Regions from separate parts of the Homo sapiens genome. Here region 2 is linked to region 1. The links come from fine-mapping of genetic effects on gene expression. A gene starts in region 1. The other region holds a variant in brackets. All regions are shown on one strand. Distances are between the middles of the regions.

Evidence for each region. PIP is the estimated chance that this variant, and not a neighbour inherited with it, causes the effect.
Region 2: its variant is fine-mapped to the expression of SYT17 in whole blood (TOPMed, PIP 0.95).

The regions. Positions count from the first base shown.
Region 1 is chr16:19,165,519-19,170,893 of GRCh38, forward strand. It overlaps SYT17 (synaptotagmin 17), which reads left to right and starts at 2,722. Exons shown (of 8, transcript NM_016524.4): 1 at 2,722-3,143. The coding sequence starts at 3,129. RefSeq lists a silencer at 2,118-2,367 and an enhancer at 2,559-3,306.
Region 2 is chr16:19,207,687-19,213,061 of GRCh38, forward strand. The region is part of intron 5 of SYT17 (synaptotagmin 17); the gene reads left to right. Among named protein-coding and RNA genes, the nearest start is that of SYT17, 42 kb to the left of the region's middle. The variant A/G (reference allele first, on the strand shown) is at 2,870.

The DNA of each region.
Region 1 (5,375 bases):
AACAATCGAGGCCCTTTGTTTTGGGTTAAAGGGCCAAAAGGAAGTTGCTAGGTGGAGGGTGCTAAGTGAAAATGCTACATAAACTGCATGCTTTTATATAAACAGTAGAGGTTCTCCTGTCCAGCCAGCTGCCACTGGATTGTCCCTGTATGTAAGTTCCCTCAATAAACCCTGTGTCTCGTTCACTGTCTCTAGGTCTCTTTTTTGGCCTCCTGGACATGGTACTATTCCTAAAGGAGTTAACAGTGGCCTGGCATGACACGCCTTGGGCAAATGACTTCATCTCTTTTTTTTTTTTTCGAGATGGGGTCTTACTCTGTCATGTAGGCTAGAGTGCAGTGGTGTGATCTCAGCTCACTATAGCCTCAATCTCCTGGGCTCAAGCGATTCTCCAGCCTCAGTCTCCCAAGTAGCTGGGACTACAGGTGTGAGCCACCAATGCCGGGCTAATTTTTGTATTTTGTAAAGAAACTTTTTGTAGGCTGGTCTTGAACTCCTGGCCTCAAGTGATCCACCCACTTTGGCCTCCCAAAGTGCTGGGATTACAGGCATGAGCCACCATGCCTGGCCAACTTCACCTCTTAATGCCTCTTTTTTTCTCACCTAAAGAGTGGGATAGTACTTGTGCCTACCTCATGGTAATCAGAGAATTAAAAGATCAAAATTTGTGTAAAGGGCTGAAAACAGTGCCTGGTACACAGACCTCAAAAAGGGTTAACTTTTTTTTTTTGAGATGGTATCTCATTCTGTCACCCAGGCTGGAGTGCAGTGGCACGATCTCAGCTCACTGCAACCTCCGCCTCCCAGGTTCAAGTGATTCTCCTAGCCTCAGCCTCCTGAGTAGTTGGGATTACAGGCACCTGCCACCATGCCCGGCTATTTTTTGTATTTTTAGTAGAGACGGAGTTTCGCCATGTTGGCCAGGCTGATCTCGAACTCCTGACCTCAGGTGAAAAAGGGTTAACTATTTTTACTTATGGGAACACCTAGCAAATTCCTCGAACTCCCTCAAGTGCCCCCAAGGAGCACCCGTTCCAATAGGCATCCTCCTCTGTGAGGCTCACTCCCCACCTGGCATGCCTTGCCATCAGTGCTGGAGAAAGATTGTGGATAAATACCACAAAGTGGTTAGGAGTGGCCACTTTGGGTTCACTGCTGGACTTGTGGGTTCAAATGTCAGTGCCCTGGGCTACCAGCTGTCAGGCCTTCATAGAGGCTTTACCTGTCTGGGCTGCAGTCCCTCATAAATTGGAGATAATCATAGCACCTCCCTCAGGAAGCAGAGTGAATAAGGCAACAAAAACAATTACTGAGTGCCTACTCTGGCTGGACAGGTGCTACCTAATAGGAGTGATCAAGGTACTGCAGGTTGAAATGAAATAACGCTTGTGAAGTGTTGAGGCGTGTATGCCTGCAGAATCATAAGCACTCAATATGCGTTACGTGCTATATGCTACAAACTAAATATATCATACTAAAAAATGTATAGGTCTGCTAGATTTTTAGACAAAAAATATATGCATCTGAATATCCATCTTTTGTTACTCCCATATTCATTTTCTCATTTATTCCCACAAATCAGCCCTGGAGGATAGGCAGGGTGGAGATTTTCTCCTGTTTTTACTGAGGAAAAAGAGGCACTGGGAGGTTAAAATTAAAATGCTGATAAGCTGGTGTCCGGCAACAGGAGATGACTGGGCATATTAAAAAGAAAACCGGCCCGGCGCAGTGGCTCACGCCCCTAATCCCAGCACTTTGGGAGGCCGAGGCAGGCAGATCACTTGAGGCCAGGAGTTCGAGACCAGCCTGGCCCACATGGTGAAACCCTTTCTCTACCAAAAATACAAAAATTAGTGGGCGTGGTGGCATGTGCCTGTAGTCCCAGCTACTCGGGAGGCTGAGACACGAGAATCCCTTGAACCTGGGAGGCGGAGGTTTCAGTGAGCCAAGATTACCCCAGTGCACTCCAGCCTGGGTGACAGAGTGACACCCTGTGTCAAAAATAAAATAAAATAAAATAAAATAAAATAAAATAAAATAAAATAAAATAAAATAAAATAAAATAAGAAATCCAGCGGAGGGCAATGTTCCACCTCGAATCTCTGAGTGGAGAGCCAGAGGCCTTGGGCTGGGAGGTTTGATGGAGGCCTCTGGGTCCAGGGCGCCCCAGCCACGAGGACAGGCAGGAGGGCGGCGGTGGACACGCCCCGGGGCGCACGCTCGCTGGCGGCCGCCTGCCCGTGGGCAGAGGAGCGCACGAGGCCGGGCACGACGCTGGGTGGCGCTGCCGGGCCGCCCCGCGCTAGACCTGTTGCGTCCAGGGCGCAACTCCGGCAGGTTTAGGGTAAAGGGGCGCTCCGCTCTCTCCGCGCGCCCCCTGCAGCCCTGGACGCAGCACCTCCGTTTGGGACGCCCTACGCCCACCTTAACTTGAGGCTCCCATCCACGCAGCCTCTGCAAGCCTCACCGCAACCGTGCTAGGCGCGTCGGGTGGGGCGGGAATAAAGTTTTTCCAACCCAGTTTGGGGAGAGGGCTGGATGGGAAGGACCCTCCCTGCTGCAGACTTCATGGCAGGCTGCACTGTGTCCCCTCGGCTCCACGGCTGCCCCGGGGGCGCTGCTTTCGGTAGGTGCCAGCCCCCGTGCCAGCAGGATGGGCTGACCTGTGTACCGCCCCCTCCCACCCCCTTCCCCATTCCCATCCCCTCCCCCGCCTCCTGCGCGCTCCGGCCCCGGCGTCTCCGGCCCCGCCTGCGCTGGGGTCGCTGCAGTCCCCGCAGCTGCCCCGGGCTGCTTGCCCAGGCGCCCCGGCCTTATTCCAGCCTGGGGAGCGCCTCGGTGGGGAGCACGGGACAGCGAGGGAGGCCGAGGCGGGGGCCCTGGGCGCCCGATATCTCCGAACCGGGGAGGCGGCCCCGATTCCGAGAGCCGGAACGCAGGGAAAGGCAAGGACGGGGCGGCCGGCGGAGGGGCGGGCGCCGCTCATCAGCCACGCCAGTCACGTCTGGGGCCACCGGCTGCCTTTTTCTTCCTTTCCCCCTTTGCTTTCTTCCCCCTCCGCTGTTGGCGAGGGCAAAGTGGCCGTGGCGGCGCCATGCCCGGGCCGGAGTGAGTGCGCGCGGGCGAAAATGGCGTACATCCAGGTAGGGCTGAGGCTGGGGGCAAGGTCCGGGGTGCGGGTAGGGGGTGCCGCGCCCCCTCCGGCTGGGAGCGCGCGGAAGGGAGGGCCCACGGCTAGGCTCCCACAAACTTGCTTCGAGAAAAAGGGTGCCCGTGCGCGGGCAACCTGTGCAGCAACAGGGGTGCGCCCCGGGAGGAGAGACTGGGGACCCCCAAACCCCGGGATGGAGGGTCCTATGTGTACTCTGCAACGCGCGCCCTTGCCTCTTGGGGAGGGAATGGGGGGTGGGGCGGACTTTTCTTCTCCCCTGCCCCCTCCCTCTCCTTGGCACCCCACCCCAGGGGAGGGGCCGTGGGGAGGGCGGCCCGGGGCGCGCCAGCCACCCGGCCCGCCAGCTGCCGTTGCCGTGGTGACGGCTCCGGCTAATTGGCCGGCGGAGCGAGCCTGAGGCAGCTGTTCCGACCAGGAGGGACAAGGACGTCGTCTCTCCTGGGCACTGGGTGCTGAGGGGTGGGGGACACCCAGAGGCCAGAGGCGCGCTGGTGAAGAGAAGGGAGCCTGTTACTTTACTCCGCTGCATTGGGGTCTGGGAGATGTGGACCCTCTTCACCTTGAAGAAACGTCCCCCAAGAATCCTTGGGCTGAAATAATTCTGAAATAATTTCTAAGCAGCCTTTTTTGGGGGGAGGGGGCGGAGGGGTGGGCCGGGCTTCTTGGTGAAAAGACCTTTCTCCTCTGCAAGAAGGGAAGTGACCGCAGGTCAGCGCCAAGGTCAAGCAGGCAGACCCGCAGTGAGACCCGTTGAGCTGCTTGCTTCTGGCGCTGGCGCCTCTGAGCTGGGCAGAGAAGCTTACAGACTCCCACGTCCAGGGTGCATCTTGGCTCACATCTTGTCCCCTCAGCCACAGCTGGGGGTGCTGCTGGTCCTCCCATTCCCCTCTGGGTCACATATCCCCTCATCGTGTCCTCAGACGCTTCAGCCTGCCGGGAACTCTGTGCTGTGTCACCTGGCGGAGCCTCTTCCATTCATCTCCTGCCTTAGATTCCCTGAATTGGCTTCCCTTTCGTGGAATCGCCAGTTTCTCTTCAAGTTCAATGAAGGTCACATTACTGTCCACCCACTGTGTGCTGAATGTTGTCCAGGGGCTATTGAGTAGTCGCCCAACAAACACTTGGGCGACCGCCTACTAAGTGCTGGCACTGGGGATACAGTGATGAAAACAGCACAGTTCCTGCCCCTCTGGGTGCGCAATTTAGTGAGAAATGAACATGATTACCGGCTCCTGGAGTTCTTAATGGCCGCCTTCAGCACAGAGAAATTAAGTGACTTGCCCAAGGCCACATAGCTGCTTAGGGGTCAAGGTGGGATCTCAAGAGGGGACTGTGGTAGATATGTTAAGCATCTCATATGGCGATGACCCAGTGATGTTGGTTTTCCTTCTAGAACAAGGTGTTAAACTTTGTTGTCCTGTAAAGTGCCAGATACTATTTTTTTTCTCTTGGAGGCTCACATGGTCTCTGTCACAACTATTCCACTCTGACTATAGCACCAAAACTGCTATGGACAGTAGTAAATGAGTGGGCGTGGCTGTGTTCCAATAAAACTTTATTTGCAGGCACCAAAATTTGAATTTTGTATACTTTGCACGAGTCAAGAGGCATTCATCTTTTTTTTTTTTCAACCTTTTAAAAACTCACAAATTATTCTTAGCTCAAGGGCTGTAGCAAAACAGGCTGCGGGGCTGGTTTTGATCTGCGAGCCTTAGTTTGCCAACCTCTGTTTAGAATGCATGGGTTGTCTTTCTTCCTCTTTCTTTCTGGTGTGAATTGGTTCTCTTCCATCGGTGTCAAACACGTGAGCCCAGGAGACCCAATGCCAGAAAGACTCAGCATGCCTGGGAATGTCAGGGCACCCTCTTTCATCTTCTTTGCTTTCTCTCTGCTCCTTGACACTCATCTTGCACCTGGGCTTTGAGAAAGTTGGGGAGGCTGTTTTTCAGCAGGGCCATGAGGTGACCTTGTCTCTGTTCACTTTGGTTTCATAAATGGCCTCTTTTGACCACCACATGTCTAGGAAATGCTTCCCTGTATTCAGAAAATGGTCATAGATTATTATGAAAAAGTATCACTTTATCCTAACATTCTAAAGCACTTTTTCATGCAAGCCCTATGAGGGTATAATATTTTGCTGTTTTGTGCCCTGCTGTACCTGCCGGGACAATACCCAGTGCCTACTGGGTTCCACTAGGTCTTG
Region 2 (5,375 bases), 42 kb after region 1:
CTCAATGAGCTCACAGCTTCGTGGAGCAGAAAGATAGGGAACAAGGTGGCCACTCCCTCAAAAATGAAAATGGGGCCAGGCACAGTGGCTCATACCTGTAATCCTTGGGGAGGCCAGGGCAACAGGATCACTCGAGGCCAGGAGTTCAAGGCTGCGAGCTGTGATCACACCACTGCACTCCAGCTTGGGTGACACAGTGAGACCCCGTCTGTAACAAAACAGGAAAAAAAAGAAAGAAAGAAAGAAAATGGAGCCTTACCTCATAACACAGACCAAAATCAAATCCTGATGGTCAGGAACTGATGAATGGCCAAACTTTAAGTTTTATAAGGAAATAAAGATCTTTATGAGCTTAGTATAGCAAAGCACCTCTTTAAAAAGTCAGAAAATAAAGTATGAACCAATGAAGGCAAAGAGGGATGCATCCTACCACATTAAAATGATGAACTTCTGCTTATCAGGAAACATAGTAAAAAGGATTAAAAGGCAAGCCACAGACTGGGAGGATACGTTTGCTATACACATATATTAGTTTTCTAGGGCTGTTGTAAGAAAATGCCGCAAACTGGTGGCTTGAAGAACATAAATTTACTCTCTGCAATTATTGGAGGTGTATTAGTCCTTCACACTGCTATAAAGAACCACCTGAGACTGGGCACTACTAAGAAAAGAGGTTCCGTTGACTCACCGTTCTGCATGGCTGTGGAGGCCCAGGAAACTTACAATCATGGTGGAAGGTGAAGGGGAAGCAAAGCACGGCTTACATGGCAGCAGGAGAGTGAGGGGGGAAGTGCCACACATTTTTAAACTGTCAGATCTCATGAGAACTCACTCACTGTTATGAGAACAGCATGGGGAAATCCACCCCACAATCCAATCACCTCCCACCAGGTCCCTCCCCTGACATGTGGGGATTAAAATTCCACATGAGATTTGGGTGGGGACAAAGAGCCAAATCATGTCAGGAAGGTGTTGGCAAAGCTATTATCTGTACCAGGCCTCTGTCACAGTGTCTGGTGGTTGGCTGGCAATATTTGGTGTCTATTGGCTTATAGATCTCTGCCTTCATCTTCACGTGGTATTCTCCCTGTGTGCATGTCTAAATGTCCTCTTTTCATCAGGACATCAGTCATTGGATTAAGGCCTACCCTACTCCAGTATAACCTTATCTTATTTAATCACTTCTACAAGGACCTTCTTTTTTTTTTTTTTTTTTTTTTTTTTGAGACAGAGTCTCGCGCTGTCACCCAGGCTGGAGTGCAGTGGTACGATCTTGGCTCACTGCAATCTCTGCCTTTCGGGTTCAAGGGAGCTGGGATTACAGACACCCACCACCACACCTGCCTAATTTTTTGTATTTTTAGTAGAGATGGAGTTTCACCATGTTGGTCAGGCTGGTCTCGAACTTCTGACCTCAAGTGATCTGCCTGCCTCAGCCTCTTAAAGTGATGGGATTACAGGCGCGAGCCACTGCACCCTGCCAGGACATTATTTCTAAATAAGGTCACATTCAGAGATCCTGGGGGTTGGAAATTAAATATGAATTTTGGGGAGGGAAATAATTCAACCCATAAAAACATGTAATTGCTGAATAATAGTATCCATAATACTTAAAGGCCCTTCTAGAAATTAATAAGAGAAAGACAAATACACAATGATCAAAAAGAAATGAGCAGGGTTTTCATAGATGAGAAAGCATAAGTAGCTGATAACACAACAAGGTGCTCACCTCTTTAGCAGTCAGGGAAACCCAGATTAAACCCACAAGATACCCATCAGATGAGACTAATGAAAAGCCTGACAATAACAGACCAATATAATCCAGTGTGAAATGCAGCTTGTCAGCCTCACTGGGGGCTTATGGAGGAAGGGCATTGCACTCACATAGAAAGTCAACATTTCGGCTGGGCGCGGTGGCTCACGCCTGTAATCCCAGCACTTTGGGAGACCGAGGTGGGCGGATCACAAGGTCAGGAGATCGAGACCATCCTGGCTAACATGGTGAAACCCTGTCTTTACTAAAAAATACAAAAAAAAAAAAATTAGCCGGGCGTGGTGGTGGGCGCCTGTAGTCCCAGCTACTCGGGAGGCTGAGGTAGGAGAATGGCGTGAACCCGGGAGGCGGAACTTGCAGTGAGCTGAGATCGTGCCACTGCACTCCAGCCTGGGAGACAGAGCAAGACTCTGTCTCAAAACAAAACAAAACAAAACAAAAACAACAACAACAACAACAAAAAACCCTAAGTATCTAGCAATAGGAAAATGGTTAATATAAGTTACAGTATTTCAGCCTAATGGAATGTTGTATGTGAACATTTATAATGACACTTATAATGTCTAGATAGTCACATGGAAAATGTGTGTGTAATTCTTTTAGTTTTATTATATTTTATTATTTTATTTTTATTAGTACAAATTTATGAGGTACACATGAAATTTTGTTACATATGTAATATATAGTGATAAAGTCATAGTATTTAGGGCTTCTATCATTCTGGTACAATACATTTTTGTTAAATATAGTAACACTACTCTACTATCAAACATTTATTATTATTATTTTTTAATTGAGACGGAGTCTTGCTTGAGGCAGGAGTCCTGAACTCCCGGCTTCAAGTGATCCTGCCACCTTGGCCTCCCGAAGTGCTTGGATTACAAGCGTGAGTCACCGTGCCCAGCCCCAAACATTGAATTTTTTCCTTCTCACTAACTGTATGTTTGTACCCTTTAACCCACTTCTCTTTATCCTCTCCCCTCTGATCTAAGGGTATTTTTTTTTAAAAGGGTATTTTTTTTTAAAGGGTATTTTTTTTTTTTAAATACCCTTTTTTTTTCTTAAAGGGTATTTCAGAATGTGACTGTATTGTCA[A/G]TGCAGCTATGCAAATACAGGGTTGAGGTATTGACAAAGACTGGGAAAAAAAGTGAAGAGAAGAAAGAAGAAGAAAGAAAAGGAAGTGAAAGCATTTGATGAAATGTGTAAAGCACTGGCATTGCGGTTGGAGTTTGCTTTTTAAAAAATCCATTTCTATTTTAATGTTGTTTGTGCAGCAGATTAAGAGACAATAGACTTTATCCAACCGGTGAGAGCAAAGGCATAAGGGGGCGCAGAGCAGCTGTGTTTGGGCTTCACTAAAATTTGTGTGCGCACATTTGAAACCCTTTGCTAGGTGAGAGAGAGCGAAAGGACCATAGAGAAGGAGTTCAAAGCAAACCTGTCAGGAGGAGAGCTGGGCTCTTGCTATCTCCAGAAAATGTCTTTTGTCCCAGATGATTTTCTTTGATTTCCTTTTTATTGATTAGAAATTAACTGTGTTGAAAGGCTGCCGGGAGAGAGAATTTTTGTCTGGGTAGAGAGGAGAGAGCTGAGCCACATTTGCCCAAGCCGGCTGCTGGATTCATCTGAGTAATTTACAGATTGTCTATTTTGGTTCTCCCTAGCCCACCCCACGTGGTTCGACCAAATTAAGCGCATCGGGCTCTTACAAGAAAGGAAATGAGGCCTGTTTATTTGTGACATCGCTTCCACAAGGGACGAGGTAGAAGTGGGCCTGTCACCCAGTTCCTTCTCCTGTCTTGGCTTCGATTCTGTGGGGGTTGGATAGGACAGGGGGTGGAACATCGTGCTGACAACCCCTCTCGGCCCGTGGTGTGGCAGCAGCTCAGCCTCTGTGTTGGGGGCTGCACTGCTTGATCTTGGATTTGTTTCTGGTGCTGTGAATATAGTAGTGGACACATGGGCACTTTCTTTGCCTTTATGGAGAAAAAGGTAAGGACCAAGTACCGTGAAGGAAATGACAAGGTGGTGTGATGGGAAATGATGGAGGCAGAGGGGTGTTTTCAACTGAGTGTTAATGGGAAGCTTAGATGAGGAGGTGACTGTTGAGTTGAGATTCCCAGGGAATAGCAAGTTCAAGCCTTGGGGCAGGTACGATCTTGTATTTTTTTTTTTTTTGAGACAGAGTCTCGCTCTGTCGCCGAGGCTGGAGTGCAGTGGCGGGATCTCAGCTCACTGCAAGCTCCGCTCCACCTCCCGGGTTCACGGCATTCCCCTGCCTCAGCCTCCCAAGTAGCTGGGACTACAGGCGCCCGCCACCAAGCCCGGCTAATATTTTTGTATTTTTAGTAGAGACTCGGTTTCACTGTGTTAGCCAGGATGGTCTCGATCTCCTGACCTCGTGATCCGCCCGCCTCAGCCTCCCAAAATGCTGGGATTACAGGTGTGAGCCACCGTGCCTGGCCAATGATCTTGTATTTTTAAAGAATAGAAAGAAGGCAGAGGCGGTTGGTGAGTGAAGTCTCAGAGGTAGGCAGGAATCAAATCATTTGGATCAAATCATTTCGATCCCGTAGATAAATTATTTTAGAGACCATTAGTTCTCAACTGGGTGATTTTTGCCCTCAGTGGACATTTGACGATGTCTGGAGACATTCTGAGACTTTACCACTGGGGAGAGGGGTGATGCCGCTGGCATCCAGTGTGTAGAGGCCAGAGATGCTGCTAAACTTCCTGTAGCGCACAGGACAGCTCCCACAACACAGAATGCTCCAGCCCAAAGTGGCAATAGTGCTGAGGTTGACAAACCCTGTTGTTGACCAGGCTAAGCACTTTGAATTTTATTTTGAGAGATGGAGGGTTTTAAACAGGGAAGTGAGGCCGGGTATGGTGGCTCACACATGTCATCCCAGCACTTTGGGAGGCCAAGGTGGGCAGATCACTTGAGGTCAGGAGTTCGAGACCAGCCTGGCCAGCATGGTAAAACCCTATCTCTACTAAAAATACAAAAATTAGCTGGGCATGGGGGCTCATGCCTGTAATCTCAGCTACTCGGGAGGCTGAGGCACAAGAATCACTTGAACCCAGGAGGCAGAGGCGACAGTGAGCCAAGATTGTGCCAGGGCACTCCAACTTGAGCCACAGAGCGAGATTCCTGTCACAATAAATAAATAAATAAGAAATAAACGGGGAAGTGAGGTAATGGCATGGTTCCGTTTTCTTTTAGAAAACCAGAATATTGGTCTAAATTATTTCAGCTCTGACATTCCAATCTTATCTCACTAAATTTGGATAAGGAAGACTTCACAGAGTTGGAGATCCTACCAGAACAAGCAATCCATTTTCCTTGGGAGGGCTGAACCCACTTCCTAGGAGGATTTTTGTATTTGGTGCTTGGATGTCCACTTTGCAGTGAAAAAGAATGGCTTAAGGAGAAAGAAGAAGGAAGGAAATCTTAGCTGGATCTTTCTGGGCTCTGGATTGTGGCTGGTGCTTTGGCCTCTTCAGATCCAGAGGGGACTGAAGACAGACTCAGTGGAGGCAGTGAATAGACTTTTCTTTCTTCTTAAGAGACAGGGTCTTGCTGTGCCTCCCAGGCTAG